4 linked regions of the Homo sapiens genome follow. The protein of the gene in region 3 interacts with the protein of the main gene of each other region in a biochemical or structural test. Each region holds a gene or a part of one and is shown on either strand. Other genes may lie near its edges. The genes, in order: MSTN, SYNJ2BP, ACVR2B and FSTL1.

Region 1 (7,625 bases), on a different chromosome or scaffold from region 3:
CACTGGGGTGCTTCCCAAGTCTCTTCCAGAGAGTCTATGAAATAAAAACTGTTTTCATAATAATACTAAGATGTTTTTTGCCTTTCTCACACTCATTCTTTCTTATGTGTACAATAGTTTTCCAGAGGCCCCATAATGTATGAAGACATCATGACTCTGTCAGCAAATAAAATGCATGCTTGAATATGCCTGCACATGACAATTTGTTTTAATATATATGTGTTAAATATTAATGATATAACTGACACAAAAAAAGATTTGGGGGATTCTAAATAGTTTTTGAGAGTATAAACAAATCCTGAGACCCAAAATTTTGAGAATCACTGCTTTAGGGGATAAACCTCAATGGAAAGGGCACACCTAATCAAATTTATTCATATTTCATATGAAGAAACTAGTCCATAGGTTTCCTGAAGACAGTGATTGTGTCTGTCTGGCTCGCTGTTTTATCCTCAGAATCTAGCATAGTGCCAGGTACAAAATAGGCATTCAAATATTTCATAAACTAATACATGAATTCACACATACATACATTTATAAATGAAGGGTTTGCTAACTGACTTATTCAAGGTTACATAAAACATCAACAGTAAAGCCAGAACTATATTTTGGGTCTCCTGCCTTCTATTCCCATATTCATGCTACCTAGCTTAAGAATATTTTTTGTTTTTGTTAATTTTTGTCTTCTAACTATCAAAAGCATGGGTAATCAGTTATCATCAATGTGGGATGATTATCTTCTCATGATGTTAAGTGAGTTGAGTACTATGCAGATTTTTTCTGGCTCTAAGAATAATCAGCATAAAGTAATACCAAACAGCTGTAAACACAAGTTAATGACAAGAGGTATCAGATAAAACTTTCTGAGTTTTTGCCCAAAACTGTTGAATTTTTCATGATTCATTCTTGTGCTAATTCCTAATCTCATCGTCCTCCTTTTCTTGGCCATGATCATTAAACTTCCGGCAAGTCTTTACATTAGTACACTCAGTAGATCTCACACTGGAAAAATAAAACCGTAATTTTTTTTTGGAAAATATTGTTTATACCCTCAACATTGTTTTGAGACAACCAGTGAGTATTTGTAACAGAGATGAGAGAGTTTCGCTTGCCACCTTACTGACGGTTACAGAAAATGTGAGGCCCACAACAGTCTACCTAGTACAAAGACGAACCATACCAGTCTTGTGAGATACTGCCTTAACTACCTAAATTCTGACTCCTGTGAGAAGCTGCTTTTAGAGATGGCTAACTTAAGACAAAACCAACAAGCTGATAGACGCAGCTCTCCCAGTTAACTAGGAGGAATTCTTCTCTACCCACTCACCCTAATGATGCAGTACTGTCCTGTCTCCTTGGTGATAAGAACTGCCAGAACTGGGTCTCCAGCAGTCAGACTACATTGAAGTTTCCTATAGCTGGTGAGCCCTTCTATTCTGGGGCCTCAGGAAGGTTGCAATCACTGCCACTGGAGAAGGAATAAAACTTACTTAAATTTCTTCAGTTCTTCTTCACCCATTCAATACTGTTCTCTAGAGAAGTTGATTAGATATAGTCAATTCTCCCTATTCATAGTAGTTATGTTCTATAAAGTCATTGCCAACACTGAGTTAGCAAATATTGAACTATTGTTCCCAGGGGAAAAACAGGGTTAGTTGAGCCTCTGGTCATAACATTTACATCACCCAATCAATATATAACCTTGTTTTATGTATGTTTTTGTTTACAAATACATTATTTAATATATATTGTTCATTCATTAACACTGAACTCACAGCCAGCAGCACTATAACTCAGGCCTGAATGATGCTTATCTAGCACATGCATTTTTTCATGAGAACTTTTTTCCCTTAGGCATATCACAGCCTTTTAAAATTGTGGTAAATATACACAACATTTAGCATCTTAACCATTTTTAGGTGTACAGTTCGGTGGCATTAAGCACATTCACACTGTTGTGTAACCATCACCACCATTCATCTTCAGAAATTTTTCATCTTCCCAGACTGAAACTCTGTATCTATCACACAGTAACTACCCCTCAGTGCCTCACCCAGTCCCTGGCAACCACCATGCTACTTTCCATTGCAGCTTTCCTGTGATTAGGAACATAGGAACACCACGCAGCACGTCAGCACTATGCTTGGGGGCCATTTTTAAAAAGCAAAATCAATAAGAGGAGCAATAAAAAAAGAAGCACAAAATATGTGAAAACATGGCACTAAATAGACGGGAAAAAGGGAATTTGTTTATAGTATGAGAGCTGAAACAAAAAGGCGGAACCCTGCCTTGTTTGACCTCATCTGGGAACCTGTGCGTCAGATAGGACTCAAATTTTTTGCCGCTCTGTGAATGCCAGCGAATGACTGAAAAATGCTAGGAATATTGAGTTTCATAGATAAATTTTAGCAAGTAGGCAAATTTGTGAATACAGAAATCATGAATAATAAGAATTGTCTGTTAGCGGAAATGACAACCTTTGTTCACTTTTTTCCAGGTGATAAGAATAAAGAGCTGGAACATGTCTTGTAACCTGGCTGCCTTAGAAAATTTTACTTGCCTCACAGGCCTAGAAAGTAGGCTTTGTGACTGATAATTGGCAGCTATGACCTGAAGCAGTTCTAGTTCATGTGGAGCATAATTTTAAGCATAATCTCAAACCCTTCTGCATAAAACAAAGAGCAAGCACTCAAATGCCAGTTATCAATTACTTACTATATGACAGGTGCCATATTCAGCAATTTACATGCATTATTAAATTATATCCCCCCAAAACCCTATGAGGAAGCTAAAGTTTAGGGAAGTTAAGTATCTCATCCATTATCACATAGTTAGAAGTGGCAAAGTTGAGATTTGAACTCAGGTCTATCTGACTCCAGAGCCTGAGTTCTCAATTCAACTGCTATACAATTCTAAGCATATTAAAAAAAAAGTTTGACTTACTTGGAACTGTATAGATGCATGTGTTACAATGATCATAACATTTGAAAGATTTACACATTGAAAAATGAATTTACCAAACAAATAAAACCTTAGAAGCCAGATCTAATATTGTCCCATAACAAAGAGTATCTGAAATCCTCAGGGCATCTGGTTTGTGTCTGGTTTTCCTTAATCTTTAATGATGAGCAAATCCAATGCATTATGTAAGGCCATTTTTTTCTCAAGAGATGTAGATACCTCTTAAGAATTTGATGAAAATGCATTAACTTTTCAGGCTACTGAGTTGCATTTTAGTGCACCGAGGCAGTAAATTAGTGTACAGTGTGCAAAAATGGTAGTGACTTTAAAAATAAATATTTGATATGAGCCACTGTATTCTCTTGGAAAAAAAAAGTAATGGACTAAATCTCTTAGGAATCCTTAGCTTCCCAAAAAGGAGTAGGAAAAAGAAATCTCCTTTGGCCTAGAAATATCTTCTGTTTCTTGCTGGCTATGTTTGCTTAGCTCTTTAATAGTTCATTTGACTAGATCTTGTGGCTCCCAAAGCTAAGGTTGAACGTTTGATCCCTACAGAGGCCACTTAAATTTAGAGAACAAAAAGCTCTATTCTCTGCTCCCAGACTTTACCCCAAATCCCTGCCAGGTGTCTGCCCTCTGGTCAAAATGAGAAATTGGCAAAGGGGTGCAAACATATCGCAGTATTGGGAAACAACAAAAGGTCACCCCTTTATCATGATGCTCTTTCTCTTTTATGTGCTCATAATATTCTGATATAATTTATAGAGAATAGATACTGCACTTTTTACTCTCTGGATATTTACTGCTGGAAATCTGAGGCAAACTGTAATAATCTCTGCCATGCCAGTTATAAAATTCATTATCTTAGTCTATGTTCAGAGATTTTTCTACTAGCTGGCATTACCCTCTTGGTAATAAACAATGAAAAACACATCTTCTGAGTTATGTTAATCTGCATCTTTAGAATAGGAAATAATAGCACTCAGTCAAAAGTTCAGTATAATTTTCATATTAATAAAAGACATGAAACTATGTAAAAATAATTCCATGCACAATATGTTATAATAACAATGACTTCCAATATTTACTAAGAATTTAGTCAGAAAACAAGTTTCTCAAATTATAGATGAAAATTCTCAACTAGTATCATAATCTTAACTTTTAATTCAGGTCTTCCTAATTTTTATTTTCCTAATTACTTGGCACTAAAAATAATTTAATACAACAAATAAAAATATTTTCTACTTCAAATACTTGCCTAAACAATATAAAATCATTTTAGTTTTTGAGGAAGTAATATTTCATATTTTAAATATGTAGTATAAATTAAAATTGACTTATTTAAATTACAATAAGAGTTGTGTGAGGATTAGTAAGATTTAAGTACAGTTTATATTATTGCCAACATAGACTTTTGTTTTTCAAATGTCACAAATATCTTTTATTATTTGTAGATTTATTTCTTTTATGAAGTAGTCAAATGAATCAGCTCACCCTTGACTGTAACAAAATACTGCTTGGTGACTTGGGACAGACAGGGTTTTAACCTCTGACAGCGAGATTCATTGTGGAGCAAGAGCCAATCATAGATCCTGACGACACTTGTCTCATCTAAGTTGGAATATAAAAAGCCACTTGGAATACAGTATAAAAGATTCACTGGTGTGGCAAGTTGTCTCTCAGACTGTACATGCATTAAAATTTTGCTTGGCATTACTCAAAAGCAAAAGAAAAGTAAAAGGAAGAAACAAGAACAAGAAAAAAGATTATATTGATTTTAAAATCATGCAAAAACTGCAACTCTGTGTTTATATTTACCTGTTTATGCTGATTGTTGCTGGTCCAGTGGATCTAAATGAGAACAGTGAGCAAAAAGAAAATGTGGAAAAAGAGGGGCTGTGTAATGCATGTACTTGGAGACAAAACACTAAATCTTCAAGAATAGAAGCCATTAAGATACAAATCCTCAGTAAACTTCGTCTGGAAACAGCTCCTAACATCAGCAAAGATGTTATAAGACAACTTTTACCCAAAGCTCCTCCACTCCGGGAACTGATTGATCAGTATGATGTCCAGAGGGATGACAGCAGCGATGGCTCTTTGGAAGATGACGATTATCACGCTACAACGGAAACAATCATTACCATGCCTACAGAGTGTAAGTAGTCCTATTAGTGTATATCAACAGTTCTGCTGACTGTTGTTCTAGTGTTTATGAGAAACAGATCTATTTTCAGGCTCTTTTAAACAAGCTGTTGGCCTGTATGTAAGTAGAAAGGAAAAGAGTTTCTCTTTTTCAAGATTGCATGAGAATATATTAATGAGACAAAAATCTGCTGCATTATTTGTTTTCTTATAGAGACAAAAAACTAAAAAATAAAGTACTTGCATAGCATTAATTTAATAAGGCAAATATAGATAGCATGCTTATGCTTTCACAATAATACCACCAAGGCAAGGACTGGGAGATACTACAAGCAGTGTTTAAAACTTACATTAGATTTTAGAATTGTATTTAGTTGTGTAAAATAAGTTTTTTTCACTAATAACAGAAAAAAAAAAAGAAACTTGCTGGATGTTTAAGCTTACTTGAGCACTGCTGAAAACCTCAAGTGATTTCTGTTATTTGAAACTCTCTCAGTAATTTTTTTGTTCTTCACAGTTAAAAATTTAATTTTGAGAGCTATTACACTGAAGAATATGCAAAAATTAAATATCTTAATGTGTTAGTAAGAACAATAATGAAGTAAACATAGCATAATAATCATCATGAACTAAATATTAGAAAATGCCTAAGAAATAAACATTTTAATTGGGTAGGTTATGGCTCACAAAGTCCTCCTTGTACCTTGACCATAGTACTATTATTGAGAGTACCCAGTTTGTGTACTTCCAAGCAGGCACAGTGCTTAATAACCTTCTAAAATATTTTATTCTTCCTGAGAGGGAGGGCTTTTACCTGTAGTATCTACACTGCTTCTGACAGATAACATATTTCATACAATTCCTTTTGCAGTCAGCTCAAAAGAATACTTTCTCCAGGAAAGAGAAACAGGCACCTTGACAGAGAAGGCATGGCAAGAAAAATTTTGTGTTACCTGTTATCTTGCTTTAATACAATGCTTTATATACTTTAAACAAGACTCCAAACAGTTTTAAAATATTATTTCCCTTATTAAGTAATCAGGTTACAATGCAGCAAAGAATTTCCATTTAAGACTCTGCTATCAAATAGGTCTGGAGCAGATTTACCTTTTATAGACAATTTTGGAAAACCAAAATAAAAGAAATTGTTAGTGCTTGTGCTTACATGACAGCCTGGCCCTAAAGACAATACTTTCGAACTTTTCAGATAGCCTGAATATAACATCAAAATTTTTGTGTTAATTATCTGCTTAGTTTTGCTCCTTTAAAAGGTTATTCCAAAGCCAAAATGTAACAGATGTACTGTGTTTTCTACTAATTCCTGAGGCTCAGTAAGTTGCTCAGTGTGTCTTGTCCCCAGGTAATTCAGGCCTGGGGGAAGGGTTCCTTCTTCCAGACTGATTGGTACAGCTGCTCAGTAAGTGTAACTACTCAGATTCCCAAAGAATTCTAAGTGGTTGTTCCTCCACAGTGTCTCTTGTTCTCTCTAATCATCATCATTTTAAAATTTCATTCAGCGTTCATTACTTCATAGAACCTTCCTTTGTCCATAGTTCTCTGGAAGGGGAATAGATTCCTGATGAACAGCTGAAAATACATACGTCTGAAAAATTCTGAAAAGCTAGGGTAATTATTTTCTTTGACATTTTTTTGAGTTATAAAGTTCCACACGGTATTTCATTTTAAAAGACTGCATAGGCATACATTATCTTAATTTAAAAAAATGCTCAACTATTAATATGGAGGGGTTTTGTTAATGGGAAATAATTTCAGCAACTTTTCTTTTCTTATTCATTTATAGCTGATTTTCTAATGCAAGTGGATGGAAAACCCAAATGTTGCTTCTTTAAATTTAGCTCTAAAATACAATACAATAAAGTAGTAAAGGCCCAACTATGGATATATTTGAGACCCGTCGAGACTCCTACAACAGTGTTTGTGCAAATCCTGAGACTCATCAAACCTATGAAAGACGGTACAAGGTATACTGGAATCCGATCTCTGAAACTTGACATGAACCCAGGCACTGGTATTTGGCAGAGCATTGATGTGAAGACAGTGTTGCAAAATTGGCTCAAACAACCTGAATCCAACTTAGGCATTGAAATAAAAGCTTTAGATGAGAATGGTCATGATCTTGCTGTAACCTTCCCAGGACCAGGAGAAGATGGGCTGGTAAGTGATAACTGAAAATAACATTATAATAACCTTATGTTTTTATTCATAATATGAACAAACAATAGTGGAAAATAGCTACAAATTCCCTAAGCTCATAAGCTAGACAAAGGTATCTTACCCCAACGGTAGCCCTGTACCCAATAAAAGTAGGTGTCCAATTTCATATCCTATGAAACACTCCCTTGATACTCTTACTTTGCATCAAGATTTTAGAAAACAATTATACCATACTTCTTAACTTCTTAAGAAGTCCTTTTGAATTGGGAATGAAATATAAAGTGCTTTTCATTAATATGATACATGACTGTATGTATTAAAATATTAACTCTATATAGTGGATT
Region 2 (7,951 bases), on a different chromosome or scaffold from region 3:
CATGATGATACCATGAAGAAAAGCTGAATTAGACCCTGAGAAGAAGAGTATCACATACTAGGAAACCAGTTCTGGTAAGTGATTAACATGAACTTGAAACCTTTCTTTGTTAACTGAACCAACCAAATTTCAAATGACTGTTTTCACCCAAGTTCATTCCTAAACTTGAGGCTTTACTCTCCCAGTAAGTTCACTGACTTATATAATTAATACATGGAAATGCTTATGAAAATTTAGGAAGCCACTGAGTGAATAAATACATTCATTTGTAATAAATATGTGATACAGAAATCAAACCATTTTTGGGTGAAATATATTAGCTAGATATAATTATTCCCTTTAATTAGTCCTTGAAGCTTGTCCGAATGCCAATGTTTTGGGAAAATACTAACACTAGGAAATTTATGACTACAAATGCCAAAAAAGATGAAGTGATATTATACTGAATTTTAAAAAGATTTCATCTTTAGAACAAGAGATAATATCAGGGTCCTGCTCTGCTTTAGACAGGAGATCTGAAAATACTTTGGATGCCAGAGCAAAAGGACTATGTCAAAGTACATTAAATTCTTAAGCAAAAGGCAAGAATCAAATCTCAAACATCTCAAGAGGTAGTAAAATAACCGAAGATATTTAGGATAAAGAAGAAAGAGGCAAAACAGGAGCAGAACAACTAGAGCCTTTAAATAAATACTTGCACAGCAATCAGAAAAGGAACTAGCATTGTTTTAATTGGTCCTAAGAGAACAAGTTATCAATGGATGAAAAGTACAAAAAAACAGATTTTGATTGAAAAGTAACTTTCTATGTTAGCCTCAAAAGTCAATAAATATTAACAGTGAGTGAAGGATACATTTATATAAAATAGCAAAAAAATGAATCCAAGAAACTTGGGCATACCAAATGAGCCTTTGACAAAAGTTTAGGCGCACATATGGAGCATGACACTAATCCATTAAGATTAGTGATAGGCCAGGCATGATGGCTCATGACTGTAATCCCAGCACTTTGGAAGGCCAAGGCAGGAGGACTGCCTGAGTTCAGGAGTTCAAGACCAGCCTGGGCAACAAAGTGAGACCTCGTCTCTAAAAAAAAAAAAATATTAATAATGGTATTAGTGATGAGTTATATTCCGATAAGTAAAACCAACTTCCAATTTTTAATAATAGAAAGGAAGGCAGGGCACAGTGGCTCACACCCGTAATCCCAGCACTTTGGGAGGCAGAGGTGGGTGGATCATTTAAACTCAGGAGTTTAAATGAGACCAGCCTGGGCAACGTAGTGAAACATCGTCTCTACCAAAAATACAAAAAAATTAGCCGGGCGTGGCAGTGCACACCCATGGTATCGGTTACTCAGGAGGCTGAGGTGGGAGGATTGCTTGAGCCTAAGAGGGAGAGGCTGCAGTGGGCTGAGATCGTGCCACTGCACTCTAGCCTGGGCAACAGAGTGAGACCCTGTCTCAAAAAAAAAAAAAAGAAAAGAAAAAGAAAGAAAGAAAAGAAAAGAAGACACAAAGTATGGATAATTCTGAAAGTTATATTTTATAAAGAATAATCTATCCATGATTAAGCTACTGCAGAACTGCAGATGAGAAAAGGTGATGGACTGTCCTAGGTAGTGGCAAGGGAAACAGGAGTGAAAGAATTTCAGGAACATTTCAGAGATGGAGCTCAGAGTACTTGATGATTTATTAGAGACTCTTGGAATACAGTATTAGTAGGATTTACTGTGTCAGTTTAGCTATTTATCCATTAACAGTAACAATAGTAGGAAACACATACTGTTTACCATAGGTCAAGCAATGTTGTAAACATTTTACATGGATTAACTCATTTCATTCTCACAACACTATGAAGTATATTTATAACCATCCCCATTTTAGAGATGATAAACTAAGGCTTACATCAGTTAAGTTAGCCAATAAGTATCAAGAATCAGTAAGAGGTTAGATACAAGATTTAGACCCAGATACTGTAATTCCAAAGCTAAAGAGCTCTTAATTGATCAACTAAATAGTTGTAAAGGAAAGTAAACAAAGTCGAAAGCAGGCAGAATGTAGTAATGTCAAGAGCCCGGTTTAATGAAGAGCCACAGTGGGGGAAGAGGATAGCAGTTTGGCTGCTCAAAATCACATGAGGTGTTCATAAAAAATAAATAAATAAATAAAATAAATCTGTATTAAATCCAAATCCCTGCAGATGGGAGATAAGATTTAACTTTTTATTTTCTTTTTTTTTTTTTTTTTTAAAGCCCTGGGTAATTTTGTGGCGGAACCAAGTTTGGGAACCTGTGTAATAAAAGATTTCTAAGGGCTCTTCCTGCTTTAACATTCTAGTTGACATTGTAAATGAAGTTCCCAGAAATCAAAGGAGCGAGGGAGGGATCCTAGCTGCAGGAAAACGGCTATGCATTCAGAGTCCACACCGTTTATGCTCCCATTTTACTAAACGGTCCCTCATAGGGGGAGGGATAGAACAGGCAACGGAAAGAAGGATGTGGTATCCACGATAAGCAGGCTAAAAAAGCAGGCTTTTAAAAAGGCTTTTCTAGCACGATTTGCACAAAGAACCCCTTCTTGACTATATATATTTGTGTTCATCCAACTGGATTTTGAGGTGGATTCCTCAGACCCGTATCTGGCTAATGATGGATTTCAATATATTTTCTCTAAGCACCCCGAAGCGTTGCACGAAACCTCTAGGTTGTGGCCTGCCCGCCCCGAGGCCAGGTGAATCCGGCTCAGCAGCAGAGGTGTCTGCAATTACACCCTCTAATCCCCTACTGTCAGATATGACCCTTTCCGCACATACCTGAGGGCCCTCTGGTAAGATTGATCTCTTCCTCAGTGACCAAATAATCCACTCTTCCGTTCATGTTTTACAGCTCGTCTGGCTTCCTACTTGGGTCAGCTGGAGTGCAGCACAGGTGAAGGTGAATCAATCTCGGCGCTGCGCCCACAGCACAGCGGTTTCGGTTTCAGCAGCCTCGAGACCCGGAAAAGGAAGCCCGAAGGACTCGGAGCACTGGGAATGCTGGGAATCGTGGTTCCTACCGCCAATGGATTGCAGTTTCTCACCGGTTCCCAAAGCCAAGCATGAGGTGAGCAAGGGGCAAGTTACCATTCTAATTTGCCATTGGAAGCAAGTGGGAAGGGGGTGGCTAGTAAAAGTAAGGGACCTAAATAAATTGATATTGTCGAGAAAAAAAATTTTAAAAAAATCTCCTGCCATCCTAGAAAATCTCCACAAATGTAGAAAAGAAAAAAAAGGTGTATTATTCTGTAAGCATCGAACCAGACCGGAATGGGTGTTACAGGCAATCCACTAATGAGATTGCAAAGAGAGACAAAAATCTCACATTTTATGTAGCCAAAGCACACGCATCTTCTCATGTAAGACGAGTTAACATGGTTTGGTATTCAATTTTTGGTAGTTCACCGTTGGAGTGGCCGCCTGTGTTGGTTAATTGCCTTTATCCAAAGGAAAAATAAAACGTTATCTCTGTGACAAACAGGTACTTACGGCTTGGAGCAAGGCGCTTCGGGTAACTCCCGCGAGCCTGGAACATAGGGGCACTGTCTACCTTGATACTTAAATTTCAAGGAGTTGGCTCCCGGGACCTGACGAAAACAATTCCTGGGTTTTATCTGACAAGAGGCTTATTTAGCTTTTAAAAAGATACACACACACACACACACTACACACGGATTATAATTACAATTTGCTCAAGAAAATGTTTTAAGAAAGGGGGGTGGGGGAATGTCTCATTCTTTTGGCAACTGGGAAAATTCAATCTTTTTAATGTTTTAACTCTTACAATAAGGTTAACGCATGGCTTAGGTATAACTTTAGGCCAGTCTTCCTGACTTTTGGAATGAGACATTCCAAACTGAACTTGAATGAAACTTCAGGGGTCAAAAACACAAAAGCCTAAAGAGCCAGGAAGGTGACAACCTTGTGAAGCAACCTGGAGTTAGACCACAGGGATTGGTGGGGATCTTAGAGGACTAGAAAGTGCAAGGCCAATGTAAAGACATTTAAATTTAGAGTAAAAAACCAAAGCAGCAGCTACTATGTTTACCAAACAGAAGGAGATAGGGGCAGATTCGGCAGGAAGACCTCTTATTTGCTCACTCTGAGAGAAGTTAAGATGGAATAGTGGAGGCTGAGCACAGTGGCTCACGCCTGTAATCCCAGCACTTTGGGAGGCCGAGGCGGGTGGATCACCTGAGGTCAGAAGTTCAAGACCAGCCTGGTCAACATGGTGAAACCCTGTCTCCACTAAATATACAAAAAATTAGCTCGGTGTGGTTGCAGGTACCTATAATCCCAGCTACTCGGGGGGCTGAGGCAGAAGAATCGCTTGAACCCGGGAGGCGGAGGTTGCAGTGAGCCGAGATTGCACCATTGCACTCCAGCCTGGGCAACAAGAGCGAAACTTTGTCTCAAAAAAAAAAGATGGGATAGTGGAAATAACACAGATTATGACTTACAACTTGGGCTCAAGTTTCCATTCCATTCCCTTAAACTTGTCTGTCTTTGAGCAAGGAATCCAACATCTCTGAACTCTGTTTCCCCATCTTAAAATGGGATTGATAGTAGCTCTTCATATGTTGGTTGGATGAGTGAATAAAATGATCATTATAAAAGGCAGAGAATGATAAATTAAAAAAATGTGTAATATAAATAAATGACATTGGGGGCTGGGCGGGGTGGCTCACACCTGTAATCCCAGCACTTTGGGAGGCCAAGGTGGGCAGATCACTTGAGGTCAGGAGTTCCAGAGCAGCCTGGCCAACATGGTGAAACCCCATCTCTACTAAAAATACAAAAAAATTAGCTGGGCGTGGTGGCGCAGGCCTGTAGTCCCAGCTACATGGGAGGCTGAGGCAGGAGAATCACTTGAACCCAGGAGGCGGAGGTTGCAGTGAGTGGAGATCGTGCCACTGCACTCTACGCTGGGTGACGGAGCAAGACTCCATCTCAAAAAATAAATAGATAAAATAAAATAAATGACATTGGAATGTCAAGAGAGAAAAGATCAAATAGAAATGGGGGGAAAATCAAGAAATCATCAATGAGGAGATTTGTAAGGAAAAAAACACAAGGTTTCTTTTAGACCACTGTGGGGACGGTGGTGGGGGAATCACCTCTCAGTACCTGGGAAAATTGTCCTTTTCATCTGAACACACAGCTTCAAAAGAAATACATAGGGCAGTGAAAGAAAAAAGTATCCTAAACAAGTTGAGGAAATGCTGGTAATAAGTAGAGTGAGAGATGGGATATGTAAATTGCCTTTATTCCCTAATAGAAGTATAGGAATAATGGTGTCAGAGGCTTTTGAACTGGAGCGACTCCATCTTGAATAGGGGCTGGGTAAAATAAGGCTGAGACCTACTGGGCTGCATCCCCAGGAAGTTAGGCATTCTAAGTCACAGGATGAGATAGGTCAGCACAAGGTACAGGTCACAAAGACCTTGCTGATAAAAGAATGTGGTAAAAAAGCCAGCCAAAACCCACTAAAATCAACGTGGTGATTAAAGTGACCTCTGGTCATCCTCACTGCTCATGATATGCTAATTATAATGCATTAGCATGCTAAAAGACACTCCTGCCAGCGCCATGACAGTTTACAAATGCCATGGCAACATCAGGAAGTTACCCTATATGGTCTGAAAAGGGAAGGAACCCTCAGTTCCAGGAATAGCCCACCAATTTCCCCTAAAACTCATGAATAATCCACCCCTTGTTTAGCATATAATCAAGAAAAAACCATAAAAATAGCCAACCAGCAGCCCTCGGGGCTGCTCTGCCTATGGAGCAGCCATTCTTTATTCCTTTACTTTCTTCATAAACTTGCTTTCACTTTACTCTATGGACTTGCCCCAAATTCTTTCTTGCACAAGGTTGAAGAACCCTCTGTTGGGGTCTGGATCAGGACCCCTTTCCAGTAACAATGGAAGAACAAGGAAGCTAGCTGGGCGTGGTGATATGCCTGTAGTCCCAGTTACTCTAGAGGCTGAGGCGGGAGGATCATTAGAGCTCAGGGGTTTGAGGCTGCAGTGAGGTGTGATTGAAGCACTGCACTCTAGCCTGGGTAACAGAGCAAGACCCCATCTCTACTAAAAAATAATAAAAGTAAATAAATTAAAAAAAAAAATGAGGGAGCTTTAATATGTAGGAAAGCAAATGACAGAGAAAATGAGATCCTACTCAGAGGAAACAATTGAGAAAAATTATGGAATCAGGCCGGGTGCAGTGGCTCACCCCTGGAGTGTAGACTTTACTTCGTGGTCCAAGATGCTTAAGATGGATTTTGGAACTTCAACCATCATATCTACATTCCAGGAAGGTAATGAAGGAAGGGCAAAGAAGACCTCCTGGAAATGTCATAGACTTCTTGTAATCTCAGGGATAGAAATGTGCCAACCATAAAAATCAAGGTTATTATTATTAACTGAAAGTGGGAGAATGGATATTGGGAGGCCACTGGCAGTCTCTGACACAAGAAGTGACACTTTCTGTCTGAACTAACCTTTCTGCTTATGACCTTGAGTTATGTAAAAAATGTAGAATGTAGTGGAAACTTCAATCTACCATTTACAAAATTAGTGGAAACCTTGCCTCACCTTAATCACACCTTGCTCTATTTTTGCACATTTCCTGTCATATATTCACTTTGTCTTTTTAATCTCTCTTGTCTGCTTCAGTCCCCTCCTACTTCAGTATTTTATTCTATCAGCCTCTTTGATGACCAACTCATGAATATGTTTGTATTTGGGACTTATCCACCTCTCCTTTGACATAGCATTTGTTCCAACTTTTTGCCCTTACCTATTTAGTTTCAAATTCCTGCATATTTTATTTTTTCTATGCTTCCTTAGGTGACAAAACTCTTTTGTGATTGACACACTTTTTTCTTTGTTGTATTATTATTACATTTAATCAGACGATATTAGTTTGTTAATGTTACTGTAACTAATACTACAGATTGTGTAATTTGAACAATGAAAATGTATTTTTTCACAGCTGTGGAGTCTGGAAGTCCAAGATCAGGGTGCAGGTAGAGTTGGTTTCCTCAGAGGCTTCTTTCCTTGGCTTGCAGATGGCCATATCTTCTACCTCTGTCTTCACATGGTCTTTCCTCTGTGTGCACACATGTCTGTTTCCAAATTTCCTCTTCTTATAAGGACATCGTTCATATTAGATTAGGGCCCACCGTAATGACCACATTTTAACTTACTTACCTCTTTAAAGACCTTTTCTCCAAATATGGTTACATTCTGAGGTACTTCAGCAGATGAATTTTGCAGGCATACAACACAGCCCATAACACAGATTACAGTGAAGTCACAGCCTTTGGCATTGCATATCTCTGCTCTGGCCCATTACTTGTTGATTTTAAAGTTTAGACCTGATAGCAGTATTATTGCTTTAATTTTCAAGTTCTTGCTGCAAGTTGCACTGCTGACCCCAGCTATTGATGACAGCAGATAGCCACAAGGCATTTACAATTATTTTATCTTCTATTGTCCTTTTTGATTGGTACTCTTTATTCTTCTGTATATATATGCTATCTTTATAAGAAGTCTAATTCAGACCCCTGGCTCTAATGCCATTAATATGCCAGCTGTCATGTCTCTTCACTGAGCTTCAGTCTTGTGTAACCCAGTTGCCTACCTAACATCTCAAAATTTAGATGCCTAGCAGGCATCTTAAATTATGATAAAATGAGAATTTCTAACCCTTATACCCCTAAACTGATACCTCTCTTAGCTGTTCCCCTTCCTTGAGTAACTCAGTTTACTCAGTTCATATGAATATCTTAAGAACAGCTTTTGATTCCATTCTTTCCCTTGCATTCTACATTCAACCCATCAAAAGTATAGCTGTTGCTATGTATGAAATACAGTCTATCTGACCATCTCTGATACTACCAGCTTATTACA
Region 3 (7,021 bases):
TCCATGAGATGGAATGAACTTCAATAGTATATTTTACTGGCCTGGCACAGTGGCTCATGCCAGTAATCCCAGCACTTTGGGAGGCTGAGGTGGGAGGATCACGAGGTCAAGAGATCGAGACCATCCTGGCCAACGTGGTGAAATGCGTCTCTACTAAAAATACAAAAATTAGCTGGGTGTGGTGGCACACGCCTGTAGTCCCAGCTGCGCCAGAGGCTGAGGCAGGGGAATGGCATGAACCCGGGAGGTAGAGGTTGCAGTGAGCCGAGATCATGTCACTGCACTGCAGCCTGGTGACAGAGTGAGGCTCCGTCTCAAAAAAAAAGTATATTTCACTGAATTTGATATATACAAAGTAATTTCAGCCTGAGATCAGTATTAAAACGAGACATTTTGCATTCCATTTTTGTACTGTCATCAAAATCCAGTGTGTGCCTTACAGAACATCCTCAACTCTAACTTTCCACATTTCCAGTGCTCTGCAGAACATTTGGTTAGTGGCTACCATATTAGACAATGGAATCTCAGAAGGGAAGGTAGAATTTATGGTGTAATAAATGTCACATGGTGCTTGTCACAAGATCAGTCAGTGGTTAGTTGGTTCTTTAATAATTCTTCAAGTCTTTTGTGGTCTGTGCTTGGCCGAGTGTCCTTGGGAAACAAGCCATTTGGCTCTTGCATTTCAGTGGACATCCTGGACACTCAATGCTGTATCCTACAAGAACTCCTGACACCTGTCTCTGTACTCTGTACTTGGGGTTCAGATCAAAGGGCTTATGGGGGTGGGGTAAACAGTATTCTAAGTGAAGTGACCAGAGCTCTTGGAGAGGGACCTGCCTCCTGTCTATCCCATCAGGAAGTGCAGGCCCTGATTACTCTGATAGGCTGACCCAAAGAAGTTTCTTGGCCACTTCCTTGGGGGAGGGCGGAGGGAGTGAGCTCATGAAGTGAAGTGACTTTCATCCCTCAGGCCTAGTGTAGCGGTAGCTGCCAAGGACATGGGCTACAGAGCCATGGGCCGTGGGTGCCCCTCCCAGAGAAGAGTGTTTTCTGCTACCTGTCCTTGTATCTGCTGGGCACTCGAGGCTCTGCCCTGTCTGGGTGGGCTGCCTTTTGGGAGGAATGGGTATCCTCCCTAGCTCTTAGGGGCCCTTTCAAGGCAGATGATGTGAGAAACCTGCCCATCTTTCCAGGCCCTATAGCTGGGTAAAAACATAAGATCTAAACCCTATGGCCTCCCATCACTTGGGTGGGCCTCTACTGTGTACTACTCTGTGGGTCTTTCTGGGCATCAAGAATCTCCAGAAGCACCTGGACCTCTGCTGGCACTTCACCTAAGGAACTCCTGTTATAAGGAGCCAATGAAGAGCCCACATTCTATACAGTGGTCCTCCATGTCATAGACCCCTCTGAGAATCTGATGAAAGCTGTGGACCCTTCCTCCAGGAAAATGTAAATCGGTATATGTGTGCATGTGTGTGTACATTGTATGCACCCACTCTGTTTTGTACAGATACTGGGAACCTACTGCCCCCTGATTAGACTCCTTGAAGTCCTGGCTGCCCTGCACATATCCACTGTAGTAGTCTTAAGGGGCAGCTTGTTCTGCGGGGGAGGGGTGCTTTTTCCACCTTGGTACCTCACTTACTTTGCCTTTTGTGATCCTGCCGGATGTTCAGATTCTAGCCCTGGTCTCTCTTTCCAGAAAGCTGTCCTCTTGAGTGCCAGCCTATGCATTCAGCCCCTCTGCTTGGGAGCTCAGGGTAGTGCAAATGAGAACCAAGGAGTATCGGTTCAGGAGTTTAGATCCACTCACGGATACTGACCTGTCACCATGGATTGGGATCTGGAGGGTTGAGGACTGGGTCTGGATAATATTTTTGCTAGTGACTGTAGATAGACTCTAGATAGTCCTGAGGCAGGGTCCTGGTTGCATGGGCCTCACTGTAGAACAGGGTTTCTCAACCTTGACACTATTACATTTTGGGCCTGATGATACTCTGTTGTGTATGGGTAGTGGTGGGTTGAGCTGTTCTGTGCATTGTAGGATATTTAGCAGTATCCCCGCCTCTACCCACAAATTCCAGTAGATCCTCTTTAATCATGTCAACCAAAAATGTTTCCAGATCTTGCTAAATGTCCCTGGCAGAGGTGAGAGCAAAATCATCTCAGATTGGGAACCACTGATCTAGAATGTTCTCACGCTTTCAAAGAGGTCTACAGTTGTAAGAAGTAGGGGTAACGGCTTTTGAGTGCATATCCATCCCCCCACTCTGGATGCAGGGTTGGAGGTGAGGTTCTCCTCAAAGCCTAGGAGATTCCTGCTTAGTGAAATCTGCTCAGCACGTGAGAGTTTGGTTCAAAATTAGTGGTTCTGGTGTACAGCTTACCACCGAGGAGAATCCTGGCGTCCTTGAGTTTTCCCAGAAGTGGTTCAGGTTTCAGGGAGGCGGAGGCTGTGGGTGGCTGGGCAGCCTGCCTGCCCGCACCCGCCCACTCGCCTCTGACCGTTGCCTTAAGGCTGGCACTCAGCCTCTTCCTCCCGTACACGCAGAAATGCCAGGAAGTGCCTGTTGCTGGGGACTCTCTGCCTGCCCAGCAGCCCCTCTCTGCTCACCTGGGGGCCTCAGGAGCTAAGGCTAGCCCTGTCTGCCAAGCGGAGCACTGGGGTTGTAGCAGGCCGTGGGCATGCCCCTTCCCCTGAGTGGACCTGCCATGTGGCGCTCCGGGGAGCCGCAGAGGCTGTGGGCCTGGAGCCCCCAGGCCGGGGACACCAGGGCAGGTGGGCAGCCTCTCCCCAAAGGTATGGGTGCAAGTCTCTCCCTCAGGGTGTGGTGGCCAGATGGGAATCTGAGGGCAGGGCCAGGCTTCCTGCTGTGGACCTGGGGAGGTGTGGGCAGCGCTGCCTTAGACAGGCAGCCGACACTGGAGGCCCTGGTGGAGCGGTTGGTATCTGTGGAGGCTTGTCTATTGGGCTTGGCAGGCTGGCAGCCCCCTGTGGCTGCCCCCATGTTTATTTTCTACTCCTCCCCTGGCCTGCTTCAAGCTTGGCTAGGGAACGCTTCTGTGGGACTCTGTCTGTCTCATCTTGAACTCAGTGAGACACAGTTTGCTGCACTGGGAAGTGATTACAAACTGGACTCTTAGGGTGGAGGAAGCATTTTTCAAAGACCCAGTTTCCAAGTGCTCCACATCACTGGTATGTGAAGTGCTTGCTGAGGTTCAGACTTCCTAGTTCCATCTGTTTTTGGGGTCTTTACAAAGGGGACTTTATTTCCTTCTCAGAATTCTTTCTCTTCCTTCCCTCCGGTTCTATCACTAATTCTGTGTTCCAAAACAGACACCCACCCCCTTGTTCTGGGCTTTCTTTTTTGGTCTCTCATTCTCTACCAGACTTACGGGTCCATCCCAGCCCTAGAGGTGCCTATTCCTTGTGGTCCTGGGGGTACTGCTACTGAATGCCCAGGTTTTCTGGTGGTGGAAATGCTGCTGCCTTCTTCTGACTCTATTACATTGCTCAGTGATGTCTCTGACTAAGGCAGTGGTAGGTACTGGAAATCAATGGATAAAGCAGGCTGGGATTGTTCAAGGGTCAGCCATGTCTCTTCCCGGCCCAGGACCAATAATGGCTTCCCGCCTTCGGACAGCCCCATGCTTTCCCCTGGTTATTCTAGGCTTGCTGTACACATGCATGTGCCTTTTTCAGATTCTTTCTGGGACTGGCAGCTCCAACTGGGTGTTTTCATTCATGGACGCATGACCTCTGGAAGCGGGTGTGGAAAGGAAGCCTGTCCCACTGGGCAAATGTGAGGCCCTCTTCCCAGGGGAATGTTGTCTGGATGGGTCTGACCTGCTGGACAATGGGCCTTCTCCCTGGCCAGTTTCTGGGCTGGAGCTGAGGTGTTTTGTGAGGCGAGCTCATGCTCTTTGCATGTGTTCCTCTGCCGACTATTTCAGTTCCACTCTGACAACCAAGGAGGCTAAAATTAGTTCTGGAGAAGGAAAAGGAAGGCTGGTTGGAAACCCAAGCCCTTGGCTGGAGAATGGAGGAGGCTGCTTCCCAGGTTTGTGCCTGAGCATTTCGGAGGATGGGATGAGACCAGCTGTTATCCGTCCATCTGAGGAGAAGGAGGGGTCCCTGTGGCCTCCCAGACTTGAACCAATTAAAACAGGAGACTAACTTGGAAGCTGACTCTCTCGAGTGTTGATGCCAGGATATTTTTTCCTTCTGGCTTGTGCAGTGGCGCACAGTGTTTTCAGGTATGAGGACAATGCCTTTTAATGAATGTCCAGTGCCATTGACAACCCTCCTCCCCCTCCCCTCCAACTGGATTATGTGTCCGTTGATTTAGAAAGCATGCATGAGTTTTCCCAGCCTGGGCTGGCAACCATGGTTTAAGAACTCTTATTTTATGCACTTTTTGGGAATTTCCTTCTCACTGAGGTTTGATATTGGGTTAGAGGGGAGTCCTGTGGCCCAGGGCTCACACAAGAGGTCCCGCTTCTCTGTGTAGTGAGGGCATAGTGAATCAAGGCTCATCTGCTCTGGGCCTTAGAAACCAGAGGAGCAGAAGGGTTAGAGAGATGAATTCTGGTTTCTTTTCCCACCTGGCTGGCTCCTTCTGTGAACCTTCTGGCTGAGGGTGAGACCTACAGGGCTGTGTGGGAGTAGAAGGAGGGCCAGGGCAATGTAGTCCTATCTCCCCTGCCCTGAAACCTCGCATCCAAACCTCCCATCACTGAGAGGTTAGCCACCCTGGGGTATAGTTGGGGGAGTAGAAGTCACTTCCCCCATAACTAATTTTCCCATTTAAAAAAAATTTATTACTTTTTAAACAAGTAATATACCTACATTATATTGCAGAAATTTAGATGTTACAGATAATACTAGGGTCTCCTTTTATCACTTCTGTTCCCCATCCGAGGCCCCCTCCAAAGGTAATCCTTTTAAGATTGAGATGTATTCTTCCAGACATTTTTACTTGTGCATCTATAGAAATACTTATAGAAATAGAGAGGCTTTTGGCCGGGCGTGGTGGCTCATGCCTGTAATCCCAGCACTTTGGGAGGCCAAGGTGGGCGGATCACCTGAGGTCAGGAGTTCAAGACCAGCCTGACCAACATGGAGAAACCCCGTCTCTACTAAAAATACAAAAAATTAGCCCGGCGTGGTGGTGGGTCCCTGTAGTCCCAGCTACTCAAGAGGCTGAGGCAGGAGAATGGCGTGAACCCGGGAGGCGGAGCTTGCAGTGAGCCAAGATAGCACCACTGCACTCCAGCCTGGGCAACAGAGCGAGACTCCATCTCAAAATAAATAAATAAATAAACAAACAAATAAATAAATAAATAAATAGGCTTTTTTCCACCTAAAATGGTATTCAAGCATTTAATTGAAGTATAAAACATATACAGAAGAATGTACAAGTAATTACCATAAGTAACAGCTAAGAAGCATTTTCACAAATTGAATACACTGGTTTAGTCAGCATCCAAGTCAAGAATCAGAAATTTTCCAGCCCCCCATCCCCAGCAAGCCCTGTTTTGTTCCATTTCAGTCTCTGCCCACACCCACTAAGGTTAACTACTATTCTAACTTCTAACAGCATAAAATAGTTTCATCTGTTTCTGTGCTTCATATGAATAGAACCTTACAGAATAAACTGCTTTGTGTCCATCTTTTCCTCACCATGTTTGTGACTTTAAGCTATGTTGGATGTCATGGCTTTTTAAACTCGGAGATTTGCTTTGGCAAACTTTCTGATACATATGGATCTACTTTGATCTTTTTAATAACTACGTAATATTCTAAAGTTTAAATATAGACTACATTTTACCTAGTTTCTTACTGATGGACTTTGTGATTGTATAGAATGTATGCAGACTGTTTCTCAAGAGTAGATGAGAAAATAACATCTGGATCATAAGCACGTATGTTATTGGTTTTAATAGATACTGAAAAATGGTTATACCATTTTATTTATTTATTTTTTGAGGCTACCCAAGTGATGGCAGTGAGGGTAGAAGCTGGGTGATATGGCAGTTGGCTCTCTGCGGTAATCTGTGAACATCCTTCCTACCTCCACACCCCAACCCCTGCTGAAATGCTAGGTTACAGAGTTTAGAAATAGCCTGGTTTCATGAAGGGTGCGCGGACATGGGAAGGGCTCACTTCCACTGGCTTAATGTATGAGGAGACCTGGAGATAACCTCTCGTGCCTGTGTCTCCTACCTTGTGCCTGAGTCTCCTGGGTACTGTGCTGATGAGGGAGGTAGCACTGGACTAGCCAGGATGTGCTGGTCTGGGTTTGGGATGGAAGTGCATATGTATGTTCACTTACCAGGCTCTATGCTGCGTGCAGACTCTGAAGAGACTAAGGCACTTGTTGAAGGTCGCTGAAGAGCTCTGGGTAACAGCACTACTGGCAAGCCCACTGCATTTGACAAAATCTGAGTGTGACAAATTCTGATTTCATATGTCGTGATAATGACGTTGGGGGTATTGGAGAAACCTGTAGAAAAACTATTTTAGAGTCTGGTGAGAAGCTTTTCATGACAGAAGGAGCTCTGGTGAGTTTCTGTTCCTGGCTGAGTGTATGCCTTGTTCCCTGTATAAGTCTCTGCCACAGTTGGCAGAAGACTTAGGGAAGATAGTTTGGGATGACTTGTTCACCAAAGCTGTTGCTTCCCAGTCTTGTTCTTCAGCTTGCTGCCTACTCTTTACTGTTATGTTGGGATTCTTTATGTAAGTCCACTTGTCAGGCCCTGCTAATGGATTTAGATGACACTCAAGTTTGTGGAACTGTTTCTAGTACAAATGATACTCCAATCAGCTTTCCCACATTATACATATGATGTGCGCTGTTTGTGTCTTAGTCTGCTCAGGTTGCCATAATGGAATACCATAGATTGGGTGGCTTAAACAACTGAAATTTCTTTTCTTACAATTCTGGGGACTGGAAGTTAAAGATGAAGGTGCTGTCAGGATTCGTTTCCAGTGATTCTTCTCTCTTGGGTTGGCATA
Region 4 (7,639 bases), about 82 Mb from region 3:
TAACCAAATGGGATTGACATAGACTGGCATTAATACTGATGACAATCACCTTTTCCCAAGTGGAGAGCACCTCTGATTCTGGTTTACTACAGAGGCTCTGGCTTCTTCAAATATCAACATGATTTGTAAAGTGATTAAATTGTTTAAAAATATGCTGAATTAAATATTTATGGTCGCAGAAAAGCAGAAAGCACCAAGAAGCCTCAATTTATTTTCTAAATTTCATTTCTAAAAAGTTCAACAATATTTGTACAATTTTAGCGATTTGAAGTTTACTAAAATAGATTGTCACTAAGGACTGTAAATATCATGATGTGACCATTTTTGCAGACTGTCCTTAGAGTTAACAAGGAAGAAATTTAAACAGCAAGCACCATTAACTACAAGATAAAAGGCTTTTAAAAAATCCAAATTACAATTCCCATAGGGAGAGGGTTAATGTACCTCTTCATCAATTGTTAAAGGTATATTATTATTAAATGGATTAAAAACTTGCCAAATCTTACTTGGCCAGGCACCAGGAGGTTGGAATAATTAAAAGATAATAATCCTTAATAACCTGGAGCCATGAAATGTAACCTAGCTCATACCTACCCCTCACTCTTTTCATTGTAACCATTTCCATACACTGTGAGTTCACAGCCTCTTTTCTCCCCCAACGCACTCTGTTTTCACATCTCAGTACTTCTCTATTTTGCCTTCTTCCCTGTAGTTTGCCTGGGAATTATGTGAGAGCACTGGATGCTCTTCTACCTCCAGCAGGAAATTGCTGCTGGGGGAACTTCCTACCAGGGATAAGTTTTCCCTGTGTGGAAGGGGGTTGGGAGGGGTGTGTGTCTTGCAGGCCGCCTAGAATAGATTCCAGACCTTGGGCCACACAGCCTGGTAAGTCAACCAACAGCCTCCTCACACCTCATATTTGCATTCCAGTTCACTGAGTGATTTCACACACTGGCTGGCAATTCTTGAGCCTGCTGGAAAACCAACCAGGGATTCACCTCATCCATCACTGGTCTGCAACTGCCTTTTGAGGGCCACAGCAGGGGATGGAGAAATGTTTCTTAACCAGGGCTACATCAGCCAGTGAAGGGGGATACGCTCTCAAATGCAAACCCTGGAAAACCAGATGGATAAGAAGCAGACCTGGAGTTCAAGATGGGCTCCAAAGGTAAGAGAGGTAGGTTCAGATCCTGCTTCAGAGCTAACTAGTTGTATGACCCTGGGCAAGTTACCTAATCTCCTTAAACCTGTTTCTTCCTCTGTAAAATCGGGATAATAAAACCTACATTACAGGGTTTGGGAGCTTTAAAAGAAGTAACTGCAGGTAACGTACACAGCCCAGTGTGTGGTAAACAAAAATGTACTTGGTAAATGTTAAACCATTGTGCTTGGAAGTGGTGTGGGTTAATGGTCAAGAGCCTTGGGTCCGGAGCCAGACTGTTTGGGTTCAAATCCCACCCTTAGCATTTAATAGCTGAGAGCATTGGGTAACCTTCGCTGACTCAATTTATCTGTCATTAAAATGGAATTTTATTACAACATAGCAGATATTTAATAAATATTAGCTACTTTTATTTCATTGGCAGTAAAAACAGTTGATTGAGTTTCCACCTCAATCAACAACGTAGTAGTGAATTAAATGAGAATTCAGTACAATGCGTATTTTTTAAAAATTGTGAAGACCTTGTATGCATTTATGACTTTTTTGGGCAGAGTCAAGCTGCGATGCTAAGGGTGTGGTTAAACTGTAATATGAAGGAAAAAATTCAAACAGGGAGCATAAACCACCCACCAGGGAGCTATTTCTTTTGTAATGTGCATTCCATTTCTTCTCCCTCATGCTTTTTAATTCCTTCCATATTTCCTGCCATAATTATCAAATGTTTAGTTTCTGACCTCACTTTCCTGGAGACTGGAGCCCGGGGAATTTAGAATTGTTTATTTTCTGTCCATAAACCTTTGAGTTAATGGAGCGGCTTCTGAGCAAAGAGTTTGTTGGTTTGTTTGTAGTGTCTCAGGAAGGTCGTTAGAGTTGAAAAAATTGGTACAAAAAAACAAGCGCTGAAATGCTTTAACTGGAAACTCGAGCCCCCAAAGAGCAGAGCAATGGATCTTCTCTTACACTTGCGCAACGTTACAGGGAACACTTGGGAAAAGGCCGTTACATTGCCCAGATGATAACACAAAACCCGAGGACACTTCACAAAGAAGAAAATACATTTCAGAGAATCATGATCTCACTTTAAAAGAGAGAAAGGAAAATTAATTTTGCCCCAAAAGAAGAATCCCGATTCCTCTGCCCCCGCCCCCAGGAGACAGACTTGGGAGGGAAAAGTCCCCAACTACTCTCAGTCTCCTCTGAAGTGAAGGACGGAACTGAGGCGCCTTTTTGAACTCGCTGCTGCTCCAGTCGCCGCCTCGTCCCCGTCGGCCCAGCCCGTCCCCTCTCCTCCTCCCCGCTCTCCCTCCATGTTAGCCGCGGCGGGGCTCCCGCTTACGGCCCGAACTACTTTTCCTGCTTTAAAGATTTAAGTTTCGTAAGCAGCATTACTGCCCCAGCTCCACCCCAGCACACCCCAAGGACCGAAACTCCCAGCGCCACCCCGGGAGAGCATCCCCAGGACGCGCGCCCACCCGCCCAGCGCGCAGACCCAAGAGGCCCCGGGGACCGAGTTCGGACTCCTCGGCCCCTCGCCTACCTCGGCGCGGACCCAGGCGACCGCCACCAGCGCGAGCGCGAGCGCGAGCCAGCGTTTCCACATCTGCGGAAGAGAGAAGAGAGCGAGTCTGAAGGCGCCGGGCCCCGCGCTGACCTGGGAAACTTGCTCGGGTCCCGCAGGCTCGCTCCGGCCGCCCAAGCACCCCCGGCCGCCCGAAGAGTCCGGCCTCCGCGCCGTGCGCCCTGCGCTCACCGTGGTCTGGTCCAGGTCTCCTGGGGGCGCGGGGCAGGACGGCGGCAGCGAGCTGTAAGCGGAGGTGGGAGCTCCGCCGATCGCCAGCCTCGGAGGAAATGCGACCTCCCCTCGCCGCCCCTTAAGACCTCTCCTTCCCCGCCTGCCTGCCCCCCCAGCTCCTCCCCATTCTCCTCCCCCTTCTGCTGCAGCGGCCCCCGCGGCTCCCGCTCCCCCTCCTTCCGACCCCTGCTCCGGGGAGCCCGCGGGAGTCCTGGCGCCGCCGAACCCCTCTCTCCGCACGGTCCCTCGTCCGGCGCCCCTTCGGCCCCCTGGACGTGGAGCGGAGGCAGAGGGGGTGTCCCGTGGGTCCCTGCCACAAAGGGGTAGGGGGAAGGGAAACCCCACCCCGGGAGGGGCTGCTGGCTGGCGGCGGCCCGGGCGGGCTGCGGCGGTGGCCAGGTGGGCGGTGCCGTGGGGGGCCCGGGAAGGTCCGGGACTGGAACCTGGAGGAAAAGACGTCCCGCGGCCTAGGAAGCGGAGCCGCCCCCCATGGCTGAAGGGGGAGGCCCAGGGAGGCAGAGGAGACCCCGCATCCCGGGGTCACGGCAGCAGGGCAGCGGGGCACCGGGAAGTGGGCGCAGGGCCGGGAAGACCGGCCGGCGTGGGGAAGGCTGCTGTGGGTTCTACAGTGCATTGTCCCGGGTGAGGTGGCGGCCGCCCTGCTCTGCTGGGAAGATCCTGAGTCCAGCGTTTGCCGGCAGCCTCATCCCCTCCTTCCCTCGGGCCGGGGAGCGGTGTCCCCCTCCTCTCTTCCGCCCACTCACTCATCACCTGTGTCCCTCCTCCCATCCCTGTCATCCCAAGTAGCCTCTGTGTTCAGGATTGCCATCTTCACCACCTTCTTCCCAGCCCTTGGCCTTCGAAAGTGTGCTACCTCTTTGACAGGGTTAACTCCCTAAAATGCTCCTAATTAAGGCGCCTTTCCTGCCATAACTAGTAAGGAGAGCAGATCCACTTAGCAACTCAGATTTCACATGCCCAAGACTAAGCCTCACTTCCCCCAGCTTCAGGGCCTGCTTATCTACCTCTTTCAGGGTGGTTGCCTTCAAACCTATCTCCTTTTCTCAGAGCCGGCTTGTACCCATAGCCTGGCAGTTTAGCCGCTGAGATCTCATATGCATCCCCTCGCCTCCGTTCACATGTCCACTTTCCTAGGCCAGACCTTCATCCTCCCTCACTCAGAAATTCTGGAAACCTCCTTTCGTTGTCCTCTGACTCCAGGCTCTCCCCTGTAGTCTCCACTGCAATCCATTGTCATATTCTTTCCCTTATTTTAAACATTGTCTTCCTCGTGTTCATGTTCTTCCTCTACTCAGAAACTTCAGCGTTCTTCTACCCACATCAAATCCAAACTCTGCCTTTCTTATAAGCCCTGCATTACTGGGCCCACCCTGTCCATCTAACTTCTCTTCAACTACATCAGCATACTTCCTCCGCTCAAAGCAGGCCCATCTCCTCGTTGTCCTCTGAACTTGTCATACTCACTCTGCTGCCAAGGTTTGTTGAGTGCCCACTGTTGTGGCTTTAGGGGGCTTCAAGATAATACCCATGGTCCCCATGTAAGTTCAGAATCCACTGAGATAGCAACAGGAGTCAGACTTATGGAGAGCAAAATGTCAGCTTTGTCTCTGCTAAAGGCTGGAATGGCAGCCATGGCTTTAGATCTGCAGGGACAGCGGGCCCAGAATTGAACATGTCCACTCAGTCACAAGCAGAGCTGGAAAACCTGCCTGTGTAAAAACTAAACTGCATGGAAAAGCAGAAAATATGTGCCTCCTGGGACATGCCTGCTCCCCAAACTTGAGGGGGTAGAGTGACACATCCCCAGTTCTTTCAAACTCTCCAGTCAGACAACTTACTCCTGCTCCCTTGTTATGGTAATAAGATTAGGGAATAGATGTTCCGCACCAGATACTCTGTCTTGGTCACTGTGCAAGGATTGAAGGGAACTATTGTGGATAAAGTTCTGCCCTCGAATAACGCACAATACATTGCATCCCTTGCAGATCCACTGCACCCTCTCAGAATCTGGTATCATCTTTCCTCCCTTCCTCTTATCTACTAAAATGCTTGGGTTTGTTTGTTTGTTTTGTTTTCAGGAACCACGTCAAGTTTGCTTCCTTCATATCTTTTCTGACAACAGCTTGGCATGGTAGAAGGCACAGGAGGTTTGAGGTCAAACCAATCTGGCTTTCCATCCTATCACTGCCATTTACTAGCTGCATGGCCTGACTTGCATCAAATAATAAGCCCTCTGAACCTAGGTTTCTGCCTCTGACAAATGGCAGTGATAATGCCTTGCAGGGAGTTGTGAAATTTAAGCAGATGCATATAAAAAGTGCCTGGCAGGTAGTAGACCTCTGTATGTGATAGCCATTATTATTTCATGATCGGCTTTGCATCTAAATTGTAGTTGGTACTATACACCAGGTACTATGAAAGCCATTCAACATCTCTTATTTTATTTAATTTTCACAATAGATAGAAAGGAGGCTGGGCACGGTGGCCCATGCCTTGTAATCCCAGCACTTTGGGAGGCCAAGGCAGGCGGATCACTTGAGGCCGGGAGTTCGAGACCAGCTTAGCCAACATGATTAAACCCCGTCTCCACTAAAAATACAAAAATTAGATGGGTATGGTGGTGGGCACCTGTGGTGCCAGCTACTTGGGAGGCTGAGGCACCAGAATTGCTTGAACCCGGGAGGCAGAAGTTGCAGTGAGCCGAGATTGTGCCACTGCACTCCTGCCTGGGCAATAGAGAGAGACTCCATCTCAAAAAAATAATAACAATAAAAAATAAAAATTTAAAAAATACAGTAAATGGAAAGGTCTTTTTTATTGCTTCCGTTTTCCAAATAAAACTGAAGCTCAGGAAGATTTAGATACTTTCCCAAGTTTATACTGTTGGCTACACAGCCTTACAACTTGGGGCATTATATTGCAGACTGCTATACAATGTTTAACACTTGTTCTCATAGTTATTCTTGATTCTCCAGCTAGTTTTAAGTTGCTTAGAGCAAAAACAATGTTTTTCATATCTTTATCCTCTCTACATTTGGAACACAATTAATGGATTTGAGTATATCAAAATGAAATGAAAGATTCCTGTTCAACTGAGGGCACCATAGACAAAATGATAGAAGGAGATATAAATGTCTAAAACTGACATGTAACTCATAACACACACACATACACACACCCTGCAAATCAATCAGAAAAAGAAAACCCAATAAAAAAGGGCAATAGGTATGAATAGGCAATTCCCAAAAGGGGAACCCCAAATGGACAATAAATATAGAAAAGATACTCAACATCACTACTATTATTTAAATTGCACAACAACCATTTGAAATCAGTATTATTTTATTATCTCCAATATACAGATGAAGAAACACACACAGAGTTTAAGTAGTTTGTCCAAAGTTATACAGTAAATTATAAATGTCACTTTACACTCATCACAGTGGCAAAAATCAGACAGTTGGACAATATCAGTGTTAGCATGTGACTAGTGCAATCTTTGTGGTGTACTGTAGCAATTAAAAGCATGGGTTTATGAGACAGACTGCCTTGGTACAAAATTGCCTTGGTAGTAAATCTTAGCTTTACTACTTATTATGTAACCTTGGGCAAGTTACTTAACCCCTTGCATCTCAGTTGCCTCATCTGTAAAATCGTGATAATTGTACTGATTTCATAGAGCTATTGTGTAGATTAAATGTATCAATATGTAAAGTACTTAGAATAGTGTCTGGTACACAGTAAGCATATAAATAAGATGTATTACTACGGAAATAATTCACTAGAGAGCTCTTACAGGTACTGATGATAAAACTGTGCTGTGGCGTATGGTTAACTCTACAATAAATAAAGCAAAAGACAAAAATAAACTATGCAGTGGAGAAAATATTTTGAAATGAGATATTTGGAAATGTCTTATCATTAGGCTATTTTGTTATCCAAAACAATAAAAGTGTGGCACCATAAAAACTCTCGTGTATGCACATTTTAAAAACTTACACAAAATTTTCTAACCTGTTTAAAAATCTTCAGACAGAATTCCAGTGGCTTATTTACTCATTTGTTGAAAATATAAAAATATAATAACTTGGGACCAGCATGGTGGCTCACACCTGTAATCCCAGCACTTTTGGAGGCTGAGGTGGGATGATCACTTGAGCCCAGGGGTTCGAGACTAGCCTGGGCAAATGTGGCAAAACCCCGTCTCTATAAAAAATATAAAAATCAGCTGGGTGTTGTGGCATACCCCTGTATTCCCAGTTACGGGGGGAGTAGGGGGCCAAGGTGGGAAGATCACTTGATCCTGGGAGGTGGAGGCTGCAGTGACCCATGATTGCACCACTTTACTCCAACCTCCGTGACAGAGAGAGACCCTGCCTCAAAACAGACAAACAAACAAAAACTAACCAACCAGCCAAACAAACAAAAAACCTTTCAATTAATTTTGATTTCCAGAGCAGATGGGAATTTATGAGCCAAATTTCAACAAAAAAACCTTCGCATGAATGGTTTATAGGACTGGAAAATGAGTAATTTGGTGGGTGAGCCAATGGTACACATCTTCCATCCAGATCTGTAGAGTGTCTTAATGTCACGATATTCAGTACACATTGATTCCTTTCGCATCCAGCTTGCTTTCGCCATGCTTCAGGTAACAATACCCA

Evidence for each region.
Region 1: the proteins of ACVR2B (region 3) and MSTN interact in a biophysical measurement, tested with the Homo sapiens proteins (one study listed by IntAct).
Region 2: the proteins of ACVR2B (region 3) and SYNJ2BP form a complex in vitro, tested with the Homo sapiens proteins (one study listed by BioGRID).
Region 4: the proteins of ACVR2B (region 3) and FSTL1 interact in a biophysical measurement, tested with the Homo sapiens proteins (one study listed by IntAct).

What each region holds. Positions count from the first base shown.
Region 1 is NC_000002.12:190,059,718-190,067,342, reverse strand, and holds the start of MSTN (growth/differentiation factor 8 preproprotein), read left to right. Parts: upstream 1-4,613; 5' UTR 4,614-4,746; coding exon 4,747-5,119; intron 5,120-6,907; coding exon 6,908-7,281; intron 7,282-7,625. UniProt on the Homo sapiens protein: Acts specifically as a negative regulator of skeletal muscle growth.
Region 2 is NC_000014.9:70,414,087-70,422,037, forward strand, and holds the start of SYNJ2BP (synaptojanin-2-binding protein), read right to left. Parts: upstream 3,005-7,951; 5' UTR 2,878-3,004; coding exon 2,814-2,877; intron 1-2,813. Other genes in the region: SYNJ2BP-COX16 protein, read right to left, coding at 2,814-2,877. UniProt on the Homo sapiens protein: Regulates endocytosis of activin type 2 receptor kinases through the Ral/RALBP1-dependent pathway and may be involved in suppression of activin-induced signal transduction.
Region 3 is NC_000003.12:38,456,887-38,463,907, forward strand, and holds part of ACVR2B (activin receptor type-2B precursor), read left to right. Parts: intron 1-2,544; exon of another isoform or gene 2,545-2,688; coding exon of another isoform or gene 2,689-2,803; intron 2,804-7,021. UniProt on the Homo sapiens protein: Transmembrane serine/threonine kinase activin type-2 receptor forming an activin receptor complex with activin type-1 serine/threonine kinase receptors (ACVR1, ACVR1B or ACVR1c).
Region 4 is NC_000003.12:120,447,985-120,455,623, forward strand, and holds the start of FSTL1 (follistatin-related protein 1 precursor), read right to left. Parts: upstream 3,009-7,639; 5' UTR 2,913-3,008; intron 2,763-2,912; coding exon 2,700-2,762; intron 2,671-2,699; exon of another isoform or gene 1-2,670.